Linked DNA regions of Homo sapiens: region 1 is linked to region 2. A link means that fine-mapping ties the variant in region 2 to the expression of a gene that starts in the linked region. Tissue or cell type: blood mononuclear cells. Region 2 holds a variant in brackets; the other region holds the start of a gene. All regions are shown on one strand. Distances are between the middles of the regions.

Region 1 (8,000 bases), 37 kb after region 2:
GTGCCTAAACAACTGTTATGATGGTTCTTTTTTTTCCCCCTTCTTTAGTTAATTTCTTTTTTTGTCATTGTTCACATTTAAGTTTAAAGGATAGAGACAGGACAACATACCCCTGAGGCCAAGTCACAAAATAGAAGCAGAGGTCAGAGGAAGATCTCAAAGAGGGAAATGAAATTCAAGAGCTGCTCATTCCACCTGCACAGTGTGGTGTGGGGGCTAAGGGCACATGTCCTAGAATCACAAAGACCTAATTCCAGTCCTAGAGTCACCATTTATTAACCTCAGGCAGGTGATTTCACCTCTCACTGCCTCCATTTCCTTTCCAATGAAATGGTACTAATGTATACATTGACTTCTAGGGCTGTGAGAATTAAATGTTGCCCTGGGTAAGAAGTGCTTAGCACAGGGTCTGACACATGGTAAGCCCATGTCACCAATTATGACGATTGATTTTCCTTCAAGGGCTTTTCTCTGTCCACAGCTTCTGTTTTCAAGAAGGAAGGCAAAGGAAATGTATACATATGATCAGATGGATAGAGTATCTGACTTTGGCCACACAGGATTATCTGACTTTAAATGACACGAGAACCCAGTGTGCCAAATAGGAGAAACAGAGCCCCTTGGTGCTGGTCAGGGGAGGCTTTCAGAAGGAGTATATAGGGAAGGGAACTGGAGGTCAATTTGGTAGAGGGGTGGGAATGGTGAGATCTCAAGGAAAGTAAAGGGCGGGGCAATCTGGGAAGCAGAGGGAATGGGGCAACAAGGACCTGGTGATTGGGAGCCTAGAGAAACACCCCAGAGCTAAGCTGGAAGCTAAGAGCTATGAGGAGAGTTTCACAAGGAAGCAGAGCAGCGAAATCATCATGCATTCAGTGTCTGCTGGATGCTAAACTCATTCAACAATTAAAACCTCACCACACCCTTAGGGGCATCCTGATTTTTCAGAGGAGGGCACTGGTGCCCAGAGAAGTGAAATAACTTATCTAGTAACTGTTAGGGAGTTACGTTTCCATCTGACTGCCTCCAAAACACCCAAGCCGTTCACTGACTGGGACACTAACAGGCCAGGTTCAAGGTGCTCTAAACCATACCAGCCCTTCTCTATAGTCATCTGTCATCCTTTGGGCCCACGGAGGTCACTGCCCTCCCAGACCACCCCCTGCAGCTCTAGGCAGGCTCCCAGTCTTCAACCACACCTCACAGACTACCACGATGAAACGCCAGAATCCGGAGTCCCGCTTCATGGGCTTTCAGGGCTCTCCCCACGAGGTACACGCATAGAGAGGAGGGTTTCCCGGCCGGAGGGTAGGGGGGAGGGCCCAGTGGGGACTTCCTGGTGCTAGAGCCCATCTGAATCCAGAGCTCCGTGTCTACCGCAGTCTTATCTCAAGGAACCACCACTGTTTGGCACACCTGTCTAGGTGACCCTGACAGGGACCTGGAGAACAGAACTAGCAGGGGCTTGAGGCTGTCGTCTGCCTCCCAAAAGCACCCTGGACCTTCTCGGATGCCCTATCTAGGCAGAAAGTAGGCTGTGCCTCCCACACACATTTCCCGAAAGCAAAGGGCATCCTCGTCTGCCCACCTAGGGTGCTGTAAGCTGCACTCCTAAGTTCAGAGCCCTGTGGGCCACCTGGCTTTGCAAGTTCTGCCAGAGGGCCCGTTTTGTGAGTAGCTGACCATTCCCAAGGGCAGCGGCGTGTCCCCCAGCCTTCCCTGCCCGGGCCCTGGGGGAGGGAGTCGGGGAGTGGAGAGGGCCAGCCCTGCAGTGCTGCCTGTTCCTGCGGCTCCTCTCGGTGGGGGCGAACACAGCAGAAGAGTTTCTGCCACACTGCGGACCGCACCTGCTGCATTTCCCTGCGAAGCCAAATCTTTGCTGGGTAACAGGGAGGTGGGAAGCCGATCTGGAGAAGGGGTCGCGCTGGCGGGAGAAAGGGCAAGAAAGGGGTCTGCAGATCCTGTCTGGAGGCACCACAATAATAGCAACACGTCTCTCCCGGGGCTGGATCCCGCTGTGGGCCTGGGGTAGCTGCTATTGATTATCTCCTCCTTGCCTACTTCATTACGTTGGCAGGAGCCTCTCACCAGTGCCCCTCAACTTCTGCCCTCCCCCATCTCCCCGGCCCGGCAGCACCCAGCTGAGCTCTCCTGGAGGTTCTGGTTAGTAAGTCGGGCTCTGCCAAAGAATGTTTTCCTCGCGGGGCGGGGGCTGAGGCCCGGGGGCCCAACGAGGTGACGAGCTCGGTGGCGGCGGAGGGCAGCTTGTCGCCCCGGCCCCGGCCCCGGCCCCCGCCGGCCCCTTTAATTCGAGTTCGCCGTCGAGCCAGGTGCGGCGCTGCGTGGCGCGGTGCGGCTGCGGGCGGCGGCCGGGAGCTCCGTACGCGCCGCCCGCGGGACTGCAGAGCCGGCTCCCGGCTGGCCGCCCGCACCCCGCCGCCGCCCGCTGCCGGGGTTCTGCCGGCGCTGGCCGTAACCTAGGAACATGGAGGCCCCGGTGCCCATCCGGAAGGGTAAATCCGTGTCGGGGCGTTGCGCGGCGCGTGCTGCCTTCCCTGCCCGGCTGCGGCGCCCAGAGGGGCTGCGGGGCACCCGGCGGCGCAGCCTGCAGCGCAGCAGGCTTGGGCTGAGTCCGCGGCGGCAAGCCCTTGCCGACCACTGCCGTCTGCTCGGCAGGTCCCAGACCGGGGAGATCAAGGGGAACTTGCACCCTGCTCAAGAAGAGTGCACAGAATGGGCTCGGGACCCTCTGGGGTTTGCGTGGCGCGGGGCGGAGGGCACGGAGAGGAGCTGGTGGGTGGTGGGAAGTGCAGCTGGCAGCATAACCATGTCTGGTAAATAGCGCGGGTTGGTAGGACCTGAACCACTTGGGACGGCCGGGCTGCATTCGCCTCTTCGGCACAGAATAACAAACGGCTTTGCTGCAGAGAGGGCTTTCCCCTTCGCTGGGGCCGTGGGCTGCCGCCGAGCCCCCGCGCTTAAAAGGAAGCTGAGATCTGGGGCGGCAGCCTGGCGCAGGCTACTCCCCACCCCCAGAGATCAGGTTCCGGGATTTTGGGTTGGACACTGAGCCTCGGCGGTCCCTCGGCTGGACGCCGGGGGCTTAAGAGCTGAACTGCGCTTGGGCCCGCAGCAGGAGCCGACCGCGCGGGCAGGAGGGGGTTAAGGTGGCGCTAGCGGCCGCGGCCAGCGGGAGGGTCTGGTCCTCTGCGCGGAGGCGAGCGCTGAGTGCGCCGAACGGAATCCCGGCCGGAGCCCGGGGCGATGGGGAGAGGGCCCAGACCCCTCCCCGCCCTGGGGCCGGCGGGATTGGGTCGGCAGGGGGCCAGTCCGGAAGCCGGCTTCCTCCAGGCTCCCCCTCTCGCTGCTGCCAAGCCGCCTCGCAGCTAGGCAGGCGGAGCGTTTATTCTGTGCTCCCTGCCGAGGAGATGTGAGGGATTTTCTCTTGGGGGAGAAATCAGTGGTCGAGCGCCTGCCCAGCTCAAATGCCACCCGGCTCAGAGGGAGGCCTGCGGCCCAGGGATCCCGGAGGGAGAGTAAGTTCATCCAGTTTTCGTACAGTGCAGACTTTGTTGTGTGGGGTCTCCCTAGATGCGCTCTGAAGGAGTGTGTGTGCTGGGGGGTGGGGTGCTTCTTTTCCAGGACTGGCTGAGGTCAGAGCTTGTAGACAGGCTGCAGTGAGCTAAGCCCTCCTCTTGGGAGCTGCTGTGTCCTGACATGTGGGGGTAGGAGTGCTTCTTCCAGAGTCCTTCCTGAGAGCAGCTGGGGACTAGCAACCTGGATCAACCCAGGGAGGCCCCTGGAGAAGGCAGGCCCAGCCAAGCCTGAGTCTTGCTCCCTGGGAGAAAATGCTTCAAGCTGATGGGAAGCCTGCCCAGAAGAGGCAAGGAGGCTGAGGGATAGTCCTCAGGCCTGGCATCAGAATAGAGGATGGGCATGGGGGCCTGTTACCTCCCATGAGGGAAGCTGCCAGACCCTCCTAAATCTTGGCACCAGCTGGTTCAAATGCCCTGGTTCCACCTTGCTGCTGTTTTTTTCCAGGCAACGTCACACCTCCTGAGGACAGCCAGGACTCCAGCTTTTGCTGAGCTTTGCATCTTGCCTCCTTCCTTCAAAAGGCTCCAGGCCCATGCTCGGCTGTCTTCAAGTCCCGCATGCCCCTGGCCAGGCACCTCACCGCCCCTCCAGCCCAGCCCAATCCTAGAGCTCACCTCCAGGACCCAGAGTCTGCCCTTCTGCCCAGAATGACTCACCATTATTTCTAGCTCGAGTGAGAAGACGTGATGAGGAGTTGGGCTGCCTGTTGGTGCATCTCAGATTCCTGCAGCATCTGATCAGCTCTGCAAGGAAGAGAGCTTCACGTCTCTGGTCAGGTAAATCAATCTATCATTTAATAACAGCCTTGTGTAGAATCACTGGGGTGGAGGCCAATGAGAAAGACCCAGGCCCAAGCTCCCCAACCATGAATACCTCCCTGGGTATGAGTATCTGAGACATTAGTGCAGCACCTGGGAGAGGGTCCACTTTTAACCTATTAGCATGGGGTTATGCTCCATGAAGCCTGTGTGCTACAAGCGGGCCTGTACCAGCCACCTTCCCCCAATGCAGGGCATTCCAGAGGTTCCTGGAGAGATTGCTACCTGCTCCCCCTGATCCCCAGACAAGTTACAAGGTGAAAGTAAATTTTGCTTTGTCGTTGTGGTGGTGGTGATCATGTGTCTGAACTCTTGGCTGAGAGATGGGAGACAAAAAGTGGCAACCCAGGTCAGGCTGCCAATGCTGAGTAGCCTCATGTCAATAACTGCCTCTGTCTTTCAGCCAAGCGAGGCTGTCTCTCCAGCTCTCAGAGAGCTCTCGGGGCTCTCCTGCAGGAGACCAGGCCAATGCTCCTGTGCTTCCTGGGGCCAGTAGCAGCACCCTGAGCTCCCTGCCACCAGGCAGCTGAAAGGCATAGCGTGAGGTGCTTCTCTCAGTCCCAATTATGACAGTGGCCACCGGAGACCCAGCAGACGAGGCTGCTGCCCTCCCTGGGCACCCACAGGACACCTATGACCCAGAGGCAGACCACGAGTGCTGTGAGAGGGTGGTGATCAACATCTCAGGGCTGCGGTTTGAGACCCAGCTAAAGACCTTAGCCCAGTTTCCAGAGACCCTCTTAGGGGACCCAAAGAAACGAATGAGGTACTTTGACCCCCTCCGAAATGAGTACTTTTTCGATCGGAACCGCCCTAGCTTTGATGCCATTTTGTACTACTACCAGTCAGGGGGCCGATTGAGGCGACCTGTGAATGTGCCCTTAGATATATTCTCTGAAGAAATTCGGTTTTATGAGCTGGGAGAAGAAGCGATGGAGATGTTTCGGGAAGATGAAGGCTACATCAAGGAGGAAGAGCGTCCTCTGCCTGAAAATGAGTTTCAGAGACAAGTGTGGCTTCTCTTTGAATACCCAGAGAGCTCAGGGCCTGCCAGGATTATAGCTATTGTGTCTGTCATGGTGATTCTGATCTCAATTGTCAGCTTCTGTCTGGAAACATTGCCCATCTTCCGGGATGAGAATGAAGACATGCATGGTAGTGGGGTGACCTTCCACACCTATTCCAACAGCACCATCGGGTACCAGCAGTCCACTTCCTTCACAGACCCTTTCTTCATTGTAGAGACACTCTGCATCATCTGGTTCTCCTTTGAATTCTTGGTGAGGTTCTTTGCCTGTCCCAGCAAAGCCGGCTTCTTCACCAACATCATGAACATCATTGACATTGTGGCCATCATCCCCTACTTCATCACCCTGGGGACAGAGTTGGCTGAGAAGCCAGAGGACGCTCAGCAAGGCCAGCAGGCCATGTCACTGGCCATCCTCCGTGTCATCCGGTTGGTAAGAGTCTTTAGGATTTTCAAGTTGTCCAGACACTCCAAAGGTCTCCAGATTCTAGGTCAGACCCTCAAAGCCAGCATGAGAGAATTGGGCCTCCTGATATTCTTTCTCTTCATAGGGGTCATCCTTTTCTCTAGTGCTGTGTATTTTGCAGAGGCCGATGAGCGAGAGTCCCAGTTCCCCAGCATCCCAGATGCCTTCTGGTGGGCAGTCGTCTCCATGACAACTGTAGGCTATGGAGACATGGTTCCGACTACCATTGGGGGAAAGATAGTGGGTTCCCTATGTGCGATTGCAGGTGTGTTAACTATTGCCTTACCGGTCCCTGTCATTGTGTCCAATTTCAACTACTTCTACCACCGGGAGACAGAGGGAGAGGAACAGGCCCAATACTTGCAAGTGACAAGCTGTCCAAAGATCCCATCCTCCCCTGACCTAAAGAAAAGTAGAAGTGCCTCTACCATTAGTAAGTCTGATTACATGGAGATCCAGGAGGGTGTAAATAACAGTAATGAGGACTTTAGAGAGGAAAACTTGAAAACAGCCAACTGTACCTTGGCTAACACAAACTATGTGAATATTACCAAAATGTTAACTGATGTCTGATTGAAACCTATTACCGTACTCACAGCTCAATGGAACTAATGCAGATGTTGCATAATAGCCTGCATTGTAGTCAGTGTGTTCTACAGTGTGTATCTGGTTCTGCATGGAAAGCAATAGTTGTGCAAGTGACTTTTGATCTTTTGACTTTTGATTTAGAACACAGAATATCTATCATGGCTTTCATGCACATCCTCATCACCGGCTTATGAACTTCCAAAGACGGGAGTCACCTATCAAGCTAGGATTTCAGATAGACACGTTGAGGCCACCTCATATCCCATACACAGTGCACCATATCAGTGCCATCATTCCTTCCTAATGAAATGCACACAACATCCAAGAGATGCACTCCCCTCCCCACCATCCCACCACCTTATTTGAGCCCACCTGCCCTTTCACAGAGGAACACAATCATGGCTTAGCTTTAAATAGCTGGTGTTTGTTCAAAAGGTCATACTCATTTTTGCATTGAAAAGAACACACAGTCCTGTGTGTTGGAATTACTTTCTGTGTCACAGGCTGGAGTTTGTGAATTGCAGTTGCCAAGTAGATGCTCTGGAGGCTTGTGTTTCATAACGGAAAATGCTGCATTCTGCTTTTTCTCTGCAGTGTCGATGTGAGGGAAGCCCGGGGGAGGGACAGTTAGTATGACCGAATATGAGTTGTCAAGTTTCACATTTGTTCCCTTAGGCCTATGGGGAGAAGCTAACAAACCAACAGACCTCTAAGCCTCTGATTTCACCATTTTTGCAGGCTCCAGGGTCACAAAAACATGTCTGGTTTCTTACTGGAGTTTGCAGACATCTGCTTTCCCACTGATGTGGCCCAGCTACACTGACACTGCAGTGAAATTTACCAGTGATGCAATAGAGCTGCATGGGTGTTTGTTGCATGAATCTCAATATTTAAAACACAGGAGATAACCTATTTTCCTAGTAGCCTACACAGTGTTAATATTTAGAGTATTAATAGGCTTGGAATGGTCTTGAACTAGGGGTTTTTTTCCCATCAGAAGGCAAAAATCCCTCCATCAGGGGAAAAAAAATAGACTATTTGGAATGGAACTAAAACTTCTGGCCCCCCAGCCTACCTATCCCTGTTCTTCTAAACAGGAACGCAGACCTCTGCAAAGCCAGAAGAGTAAGCGGGGAAGGCAGCATCTGAACACCTCACATGACTGCACCTTAGGAATTAACCTAGTCGCGGGCATGACTGTACAGTGGACCAGGGCATCTGGTCCTGATGACAGGCAGGTCTGTGGATCCAGTGTATATAAATATATATCGAGTATCTCTCTTTCACGCGTTCCTCTACCTAGCTAGTGATAGAAAAGAAATTGCATTTGAACATTGTACAAGCTTATGCAATATTTTTGACAAAGGGCAATTTATGCATGTGTTTGACTATGTGCACTAGGGTGTATATATATACATACATATGTGTGTATATGTATACACACACACACACACACACACACACACACACACATATATATATATATATATTCATTTTCTGGAGTTCA
Region 2 (10,593 bases):
TTTGGGTTCAACATGACCTCAAATATGTCTCTCTCTTGGAAATTTTCCCTCTTAATTTTGAAACATGAGTAGTGTTGAGAAAATTAATCTGTACTTTCTAGTCAACCACACTTACCTCATCCAGTTGCCGTTTTAGAAGTGTTGTTTATTATTCCAGGAAACTTCAAGGTCCTTATTGTAAGCTTTTTGACTTAGAAACAGGAAATCAGATTTTATCTCAAGTGTAATTTTAAACCACAGTATTTAAACATTTCCAGTAGTTTCCAGACTTCATCAGAGGGCTACTTCAATCTCCAACCCTCTGAAGTATTCCACTCAGATAAGAACTCCTGTGTTTAAACTGTACTGGATTTGCCCATTTATATCTCTGTAGATCCCGGTCAGAATGTCTTCCAGTTCAAAAACATACACACATTCTCTCATTCTTACGGAATCTACTGGAAATTAACATACACAAGGCTGTGGGCATCAAACTTTAGATCATTATAATCATCAAGAACAATTGACTAACTTAGAGTAAGATTTTCATTGCTGATAATTCTAGGCAAAATTCTTACCAAAACTGAAAACATGAATTTTCCTAACTGCATTAATAGATAAAAATGTCAATTATTGGAAAGCAAACCACTAACTCCAAAGGTTGCAAATGGTCTCAATCCTTATTCATCATAATTCCTTTAGGTCTATTAAGGAGAAATTTAGGGAGCTAAAGAGTAAGATATAATTAATGTAACTTGGTGTTGGTGATTTATTCAGTGACAAATTATAAGGCTGCTACTATAACATGCTCCCATGAGCTTAAAAGGAACAAAGCTCTTCTGTTTTAAGGATAGGTTATGATAGCAATTCTCAGATAATTCTCATTTCATCTTTTCCCACTGGTTATCTGTCAACTGAGGAGCCTTTAATCTGGAATCCTATTGTGTAGTTGCTATTTGAAAAGTCTTTTAACATCTCCATGACCCCTAATGCTGCAGAAAAGCTTTGCATTTTGAAAGTGTATTCTTGTCCATCTTAGCCACACTCTCCCATCTCCCATCTGAGTTGTTACTGGTTGATTGAATTGGCATCTGCAAAGGCTGAAGGTGCCACTAAAAGGGCAATTCCCCCTCCACTGATGTCAACATATCTTGATCTGTGGGTCTTTTTGAGAGATGATACAGACCTTGCTTAATAATCTAATAGAAGTGACAATTTTTCAGTACTAGCCTAGAGATAATCCTGCCTGCAAAAAGAAGATGGATTACACGAATAGAAGTCTAAATCCAATTGTGATGGCCTTTCTAATAAAATGAGCATATACAGATGTCCTACCATGCTCTTTGAGTCATGGCTAATCCAGAATTTAAAGAGGAAGTCTACTTCACATTTCTTTCTCTAATTTCACATATTTCTTCACAGTTTGCCCAGTCCTCCAAAGAGAAGCTCACAGTCACTGAGATTTTTAAATCACATGACTCGTAATTGTGAGTCACTGGCTGATTAAGCCTATAAAGTAGCTAAACCTCTCATCTTCTAACATGAGCCTTTAATTCCTCCATTCGGAAGTGAGACTGCAGCTGTTGTATATCACCATTATTGTTAGTTCTTAAAAACATGTCAAAGGTTTTGTTTTGCTTTGTTTAAAAAAAAAGACTTAAATAAGATATTGACAGACATTTAGAGAGGGAAGCAATGCTTTCAAACAGGAGTTAAAATTTCAAGTTAATGTTTTAATAATTACGTCTTCTTTTGGCTCAGTTTCACTTGGATCTTAGTCCCACAATCATGTCTTCAAAATATTCTGAATAAATCACCACCCAAAAAAAAAAGCCTTAACTCTCATTCAGGAAAATGATGAGTTTTACTGGGTTCTAAAAATGTTTCAAGAACAAAATTAAGTGAGTAATCACATTTGACTTATAAAGCAAGAGTAGAGCCTGAATACAATGCAGTCAGGCACCTCTGAGCTTTCTGGCCAAAATAATAAAAATAAAAATAAAAAAAGTATATAGCCTTTCCTGACTTCTCTTGTTAAAATCTCAGAAAAAAGAAGTCTTCTGGCTTCCACTGGTGATTCTTAACCTCATTCTCTCATGAGGGCCCAGTTCTATTAGTATTGGGTAATTCCAATTGGGTAATAACTAAGAAATTGGAGAGCCCCTTCCACTCAACCCACACCTTTGTTTAAAAAGTGTCTTTAGGAAGAGCTGGCCCCAAAAACCTTAAACCTTGCTACTCAATGGTCCTCAGGGACCAGCAGCAGCAGCAGCATCTAAGAGCTTGATAGAAATGTAGAATCTCAGGCTCCACCCCCAACTCACTGAATTAGAATCTGAAGTGTAATAAACTTCCCAGGTGATTTATATGCACATGAAAGTTTAAGTAGCACTACTACCAGATCATTACTGTGTAACCTCACTCAGAGATTTTCCACCTGTGAGCCCTTTGAATGAATAAACAATGTAAGTTCAAATTAAGCTAAAATAATCTGCCTTGCTCCTATATAAAATTTGTTTTTAGAAAGTCCCAAAACATGATAAAGAATGAATATTTTCATTATTGAACACTAAGAATTTAAAAGCTACTCCTTCATTCTACTCTTCAATGTAGTCTAAATGTTTCATTCCATACAAAATAACCCCTCCTAACCTCCTCCACCGGGCCTATCCCTCAACAGCTATAAAACCTTGGTAAAACCTCACATTTGGAATAGTCTTCATGGATGTTAATAAGCTACTAAAATAATAATTCAAATGCCTATAACAAATGACGACAGACACTCTTTTAAGTCCTTGTCTATATTAATTTATTGGATCCTTAAAACAACCCTAAAAGATCAGTTCTATGTTTGTTTTTGTTTTTGAGACAGAATCTTGCTCTGTCACCCAGGCTCTTACTCTATCACCCAGGCTGGAGTGCAATGGAGCAATCTCAACTCACTGTACTCTCCGCCTCCCAGGCTCAAGCAATTCTCCTGCCTCAGCCTCCCAAGTAGCTGGGATTACAGGGACACGCCACTGCGCCCAGCTAAATTTTTTTGTATTTTTAGTAGAGATGGGGTTTCACCATGTTGCCCAGGCTGGTCTTGGACTCCTGACCTCAAGTGATCCACCCGCCTCAGCCTCCCAAAGTGCCCGGAATGCCATATTCAACATTTATATGGTATATTTTACAAGGATGGGGTTTCAGCCCTGTCAACTGAGGTTCTTCATATATGCAGGCCAAGCCCTTCATACATCTTAAACAATATCCTAAAGAACACATATGTCTCCCAAAGTGATTGCTCTGGAGGGCTTCCTCACTTCCTCACTGGAAAGCCATGTTTTAGTTATTAGTATTCTGGTCAGACAGAAAACCTCCCTTGCAGAGCTGCAGTGGAGGGGAATGCAGCTTTGTGCACTATAAATAGTAATTTTATTAAAATGTAGAAAAATTGTTGAGAAAGGAAAAAGAGGTGGGGGCAGAGGGTTGCCATGGCAACTCGACCATTCCTTCAGTTTTGAAAGCGTGGGGAAGACTACAGAATAGTAAATAAAGAAGAGGAAATAGAGGAAGTCGGAATGGCACATGATCACAAACGGAATGAGACAGCTCAGACAGCCTAGTCTCAAACTGAGTGCTGAGCTAAGAGGCAGAGGGTGGGCCTCCCAAGGGAAGAGGGGATGCCTTTCTTCAGAGAGCAAGAAGACTGGCAGAGTGAAATCTTTGTCATCAGCTTTACCTCATGGCTCAGCCACAGAGGCCACCAAACAACACAGCCCCCAACAAATGATTTATGGATAAATGAATATGGAAGCAAGAATCCTCCTGGTAGCCTCCCAAGAACTCCCTCCCTGCCCCCACCTCCATACATATTTTTAGATATTGGTTCTAGAATCTCCATTCTTCATCCCACTCCTCACTCCTGAATGTTGATTGACTCCAGGCAGATCGAGAAAGATCAGGACACACCAGAAATCCACCCATTTACAAGACATTAGATTAATTCACATGCTACAAATTCAAAATATATTATTAAAGGAAACTAGGATAAAAGGATAACCTTAATTCAGCACTTTACAGGTTACTGATCATTACACATTATCCCATGGGATGCATGGAACAGCCCCGGCAATCTGGGATTACTCCACCTTACAGTAGCCCAGGAAACTCTGTGCACAATTCAGACTGAAACAGAGCAACTAATATCTCCTGCATGCAAGAATTTTCCATCTCTCCTGGAGAATGGAATTACTATTGAAGGTTTAGAGGACTTTCAGTCTGTCTTGATCACACATTGTGACAGCTTAAACAATGCACTATCCCCATTAACACTTCAGTATTTGGGGGTGGGGGGTGAGGTGGGGTGGGAGGTGAGGGAGGAGGTGAGAGAGATCCATGTAAATACACATAAGCAGTTCTATGTCATTTCTGTTAATGGAGGGTAGATAAAGAAAAGATCATCCAGGAGTCATGTTTAAGGACTTTGTAATGCATCAAATATATTGGATTGTGTGGAGGCTACTCGCAGACATTTGGGGTAATTTTTAAAGCTTTAAAGGGATAGGAAGAGAAGCTAGTTAAAGAGAAAGCAGGCTGGGATTTAAAAATGTCCCATAGAACCTACAGATTACCGTGCCAGAGCAGCAACCATATTGCCTACATCTGGGAAACAGTGTTGACTCTAGTTCCCTCCCCCAGCTGGACAAACCTCATGCACAGGGCAGAGCTCAAGAACGCTCACATCATGGCTGATGGGATGGGCATTGCCAGAGAGAGAGCAGCTTCACTGGGCAGAGTCAGGGCCTCCTCAGACTGGGAGAAAATGAAAAATGAGATCAAAGGTTCTGGGTGAGGTTCTGGGTGAGGTTCTGGTGATCCACTTGATCACCAGATCCAGGGACGTTGTTCCTGAAGAGCATTCCCTGAAGCTGAACACTTGGGAAGTAAATTTAAAATGAATGAAAGGAGCTAAGTAGTCAGCATATGAAGTTTATTGCCCAAAATGTGTTACAGATTACAATGTAAACAGGTTCAAATCACCTTCAGGTGAATTCACATAGAACAAATCCAAAATAAAATATTAAAGAAAACTAGTATAAAAAGATAACCTCTGGCCGGGCACCATGGCTCACACCTGTAATCCCAGCACTTTGGGAGGCCAAGGCAAGTGAATCACCTGAGGTCAGGAGTTTAAGACCAGCTTGGTCATGGTGAAATTCCATCTCTACAAAAATACAAAAATTAGCCAGGCATGATGGTGGGTGCCTATAATCCCAGCTACTTGGGAGGCTGAGGCAGGAGAATCACTTGAACCCGGGAGGCAGAGGTTGCAGTGAGCCAACATAGTGCCATTGCACTCCAGCCTGGGTGACAGAGCGAGACTCCATCTCAAAAAAAAAAAAGATAACCTCTATTTAGCACATTCCAGGTTACCAAGTACTTAAATACATCTCCATAGACATTCAAAAAGGTAGACATTAGGCGATCATCACAGAGAAGAAAATTGAGACTTGGAGAAGACAGAACATGAATCCGAACTGTACACCAAATATTTTGGTCTGATATTCTCAGTATTCTTTGTGTTTACTGAGTTTGGGTGTGGGTAGGATAGAGAGTCCCTGATTAGGATGACTTAGCTACAAAGTCAAAATTAAAGAAATCTGTGGTTCTGGACTGTATATTTGCAGTTTTGACTGAAGGGTTTCATAAAGAGCACCAATGTTCACAACTGAGAATTGTGAAACCACAAGTTGCAGGGTTTCCTGTATTTAAGTCGACCATGCAGTGGTACCATGGAACCCATTTCTGCCAGTCATGAAATGCTGCCTTTCTCCTAGCATTATTACCATCTTCCCTCCCTACACACACACACACACACACACACACACACACACACACTCACAAATGCACTAAACCTCTCCTTTCTCTTCCCTTTTCTCTTTTGTTTAGTCACACACGATCTTTCACTTCTACTTCAGTTGCATTTATCCACTCAATGCAAGTATTTGAGCATCCATCCAGCTAAATCTCAGGGCCCAGAATGCCAAACTGTTCCCTCCAAGACTGCACTACCGACAGCCGAGAAAAGCTAATAGTGATGATAGTTAATACTTACTCAGCACCTACTCACAATGCACAAGGCACTGGGATAATAACTCCTTTGCATTCAGATTCCTCAATAGCTCACTCAGTCCTTACAACAATGCAAAAACCTTGAAAAGTGTTACTATCCCCATTATA[C/G]GATGAGAATGTGAAGCAGAGGGGTCATAACTCACAGGAAGTCGTGTGGCTAGTGATGGTGCAGTTGGAGAAGTGCGTGCTTCTCCTCCTTCATAACCATTGCCTACCCAACATTTTAAATATATTTGATATTGTCTAAATTGTTTTCCTTAAGAATAAATGTTTTATATTGACATATTTTAACTGACTCATATTTGGTTCATAATCAGGCAATTCTATTTTATAAACAGTCTCAATCTTTGTTTTCTTACTGATCCATTTATATACACCCTCTCACACTCCGCATTTCTGCTACTAATACCAATTTCTTTTTTTCTTTTTTCTTTCTTTCTTTTTTTTTTTTTTTTTTTTTTTGAGACAGTATCTCGCCCTGTCACCCAGGCTGGAATGCAATGGCACCATCTTGGCACACTCCAACCTCCACCTCCCAGGTTCAAATGATTCTCCTGCCTCAGCCTCACGAGTAGCTGGGATTACAGGAGCCCGCCACCACGTCCAGCTAATTTTTGTATTTTTAGTAGAGACAGAGTTTCACCATGTTAGCCAGGCTGGTCTCCAACTCGTGAGTTTGTGATCTGCCCGCCTCGGCTTCCCAAAGTGCTGGGATTACAGGCGTGAGCCACCTCACCTGGACCAACTTCTTAATATTCTGGCTTCTCGCAGCCATCTAGCCTCTTTCTCTAGTTCTCTTTTCTGATCTTAATTCATGCATTAGGAAGATAGGCAGGACTGAATGCGCTTGGTATCTCATCTCTTCCCTTAATTCTACAAAGCCTCTCAGGTCTTCCCACAACCCTTTGCTCTACCATGCTCTCTCACTCTGCCCATCCCAGAACTCTATGCAGATGGCTCTTCCAGGTCACCAGCAGCCCAAAAGTAGCCTTTCCTTGGGTCTTACCTCCTTGACTTCTCCATCTTTTGGCATCCATCACACTGAACTGCCTTGCTTCTCCTCAGTAGCAATTATTCCTCTTCAGTCTTCTTCAAGGCTCCTCTCAGCTGCCTTTCCCCTCCATGTCCTGTCTCCCAGGCTCAGCCCTTAGTCCTTCTTACTTCTCCTATAATTTCTTCTCAGGCCATCATATACATTCCCATAGTTTAACTCTATTTGCCACTAACTCCCAAATCCATATCTCTATTCTTAGCCTCTCTCGCTTTAGCTCCTCCATTTCCAACAATCTGCCAGTCATTGCCACCAGGATGACTCACTGGAACTTCCCATCCAGACTGTCCAAGTAAAGCATTTTCTTTCTCCAGTGATTTGGCCCTTTCTTCTGACTTCCCTATCTCTAGCAGATACCATCATGCAGATAGTCACCCAGGCAAAACAAACAAACAAATGAACAAAAGTTGTCGTCTTTCATCCCTCCATCTTCCTCACTTACTGTAGTCTACTAGTTTTAAAATATAAAAAGATTCTACTCCTGTTCAGAAAGCCTTCAGTGGCCTTCCATTATCTGTTGATGAAGTGCCAACTCACCCTGCCTTTGCATCCCACACTTTCCAGTGATAGCCCAACACCCTTTCTCACCCAAGCTTCCTCCAACCAAAATAGACTCTGTCCTGTTCTCAAATATATGCCAAGCTTTTCTGCCTTTCTGTTCTGATGTATGCTGTCCCTGATATCTTCTTCTCCAACACTCAAAAGGACTTTCCTCTCTTCTTACAACTTAGGGTCTTCCTGAGTATTTGTGATATTTATCATGTTCTACTCCTTGTTTTTATCTGTCTGTTCCACCTCCTGAGGTAGAGGATGGGCTCCATACTTGAAGCACCTGTTTCCCCACCACACTTACATACCTTGTGCACAGCAGATCCTCATTATACTTTTGATGAATTGAATTCAGTTGGGGCTCAGCAGCTGTGTAAGAAGAACCAAGTTTCCAGGACCCTCTCCTCTCCTGAAACCAGGCAGATATTCTATTACTTGTCCCACTTTCTCATCTTAAAAATGGGCCTCTGTTTTTCCCTTATGGTCTGAACATCTACCGTTTACCTCTGCAAGCAGTGAAAAGTGGTCAGATCTTTGGAACAATAGTCATAGCTACTGAGCACTGCCCATGTGCCAGACACTGTTTGAAGCGCATACATGTTTTAACTTCTTTAAACCTCTCAGCAAACTTGTGAAATAGACACTGAAATTCCCATTTTACAGATGAGGAAACTGAAGCACAGACAGGTTAAGTGGCATGTCTAAGCATAAACAGCTAGTATGGAGGGAACCAGATTCTCAGGCAGGCCCCTGGCTCCAGGGCCTATGCTCCCACCATTTTGCTATAAGGAAATGCAGATTTGAAAAGAGGAGATTTTACTTGTAGGTCTTGATGACCCCAATCCCAAAACCCAGAGCCTGGTTTGGTCTTCACAGGTTTGACCTAATGTGTACATATGTGTATCTGATTGTGAGTGTATGTGCAGTGGAATTAGGGGAGAGCCACCTGTCTTTGCACTCTGCTCTTTAGCTGGTGTTGTTGTGTTTGACGTTATTTCCCCAACACAAGCTTCCTGGAAGAAGACGGTATCTTCCATGATTTTACTCTCCCACTGGAGTCTGATCTAGCGCTTGTCATCTAGCAAGCGACCCACAAGTTTAAGGCTGAATCACATTTTCACATATAAAGTCAGTGCCCAAGCCATGTCTCTCATTTGAAGCTTCTGTTGTCTGCCCCCACTTCTCCCAGCCTCCTGACACACACCCACTCTCTCACAGAGCAGGTGCACTTCAGCAGAATGTAAGCAAATCAGTGCTGAATGTCAAAACGGATTTTACTCAATTATTAAATTGCGAGAACCAGGAGAAGAGCAAATAAATATCCCAACAAAGTTATGCTATGAAATATGTGAAACCCACCCAGATCTAATATTTAATTTAGACTCAACTGTCTCAACAGCTTTCTACCATCCCAGATTCCAGCCAAAGGCCATCAGACATGGCTTGGGGTGAAAACTCGGTAGCTATACAGGCCTAATGCAAAGACCAAGGCTGAATGATGGGCCACCCCTCAGGGACAGGTGCCCACAGGCCAGAGGCTGAAAAGCTTCTCCAAAGATGCCAATTAGCTCAAGCACAAGAACCAAAGCCTGAGCTCTGACATCTGCATAAGTCAGGCTGCTGGGAGCTTTGCCTAATGATTCTGCAAGAAGAGGGGCTCTGAACCAGCATCTGCCTCCTGCTGCCCAGCTTCCTCAGCCAGCCAGAAGGGAGATACAAGCACCACCTAGTGCTGAGGTAAGGGGACCGGTCATTGACAGCTGCTCACTGGCTGTGATGATATTTTAAGTATCAAGGCTACAGTGAATGCCGAAGAGGAGAGGGGAGGGAGAATAGAGGAGTGGAGAAGCAGCAGGGGAAATAGATTCAGAGCATGAATTCCCAGCTCATTCAACTCACCCCACTGCACCCACCAGTCCTCAGCACTGGTGTCATAGCACCATCCTCAGAGGCCAGGAGGCTGGCTTCCTGCAGCCTCCAGGCCTGGTGAGCCCTCCCTCTCCCCCAAGCTTTTTCCCAGCCTGTCTGGCAGACATGCGGCATGTACTGCTGTGCTCACGGCCAGTAGACCCCTGCTTCCCCTCCTGTAGTGGCTCTCTGAGAATAAGGATGTGTCTGCCCTTGGCTCAGCATCTCAAGCACATAAAGCAGATTCTGCTTCCAGAACCAGAAAATACATGACAGTTCAAGACACAGAACTGACTCTCTCAGTCACTCCATGCCGCTCCAGCAGAGGGCTTCTCAGGGGCCAATGGAAACCAGCCACCAAAGGCTGTCTCATCAGGCTGAGTCCAGACCACCCGAAGGGAACCCATACCACCCAGGCCCCACCCAGGGGCAGACCCAGGACCCAGGCAGGTCCTGAAGTGCTGGACCACTCTGTCACAGAGCCAAAGTATGGGTATGGGTTTAGCTGTCTCCCATGGCTGCTCAGCCTGCAGAGCCTACTGAAGGGCCTATCCAGCTACCAAGGGAGGACATGCTGCCAGTGAGCTCCAAGGAGCCCTGCAGCAGAGCAGGAAGGGGCAGGGGAATGCTCCCACCCACCATCAGCTAGGGCTGGAACTCCAACTCACTCTGAGCACACTGCAGCCTCCCAAGTGGATGTAGGTTACTCTGGATGTAGGTTACTCCAGGTGACACATTCTTTTCTACAAAATTTCTTTCCAGATCAAATCTAATTTTATTTTATTTTTATTTTATTTTACTTATTTTTGAGACACAAAATATTTTACTTATTTTTGAGACAGTGTGTTGCCCACACTGGAGTGCAGAAGTGCCATCACGGTTCACTGCAGTCTCGACCTCCCTGGGCTCAGGTAATCCTCCCACCTCAGCCTCCCAAGAAGCTGGGAATACAGGCATGGACCACCATGCCTGGCTAATTTGGGGTTTTT

What was found. PIP is the estimated chance that this variant, and not a neighbour inherited with it, causes the effect.
Region 1: it holds the start of KCNA2, and the variant in region 2 is fine-mapped to the expression of KCNA2 in blood mononuclear cells (TOPMed, PIP above 0.99).

What each region holds. Positions count from the first base shown.
Region 1 is chr1:110,601,761-110,609,760 of GRCh38, reverse strand. KCNA2 (potassium voltage-gated channel subfamily A member 2) reads left to right here and starts at 3,403. Exons shown (of 3, transcript NM_004974.4): 1 at 3,403-3,533; 2 at 4,039-4,370; 3 at 4,816-8,000. The coding sequence starts at 4,979. The coding sequence ends at 6,478.
Region 2 is chr1:110,637,035-110,647,627 of GRCh38, reverse strand. No RefSeq gene overlaps it. Among named protein-coding and RNA genes, the nearest start is that of KCNA3, 33 kb to the left of the region's middle. The variant C/G (reference allele first, on the strand shown) is at 6,205.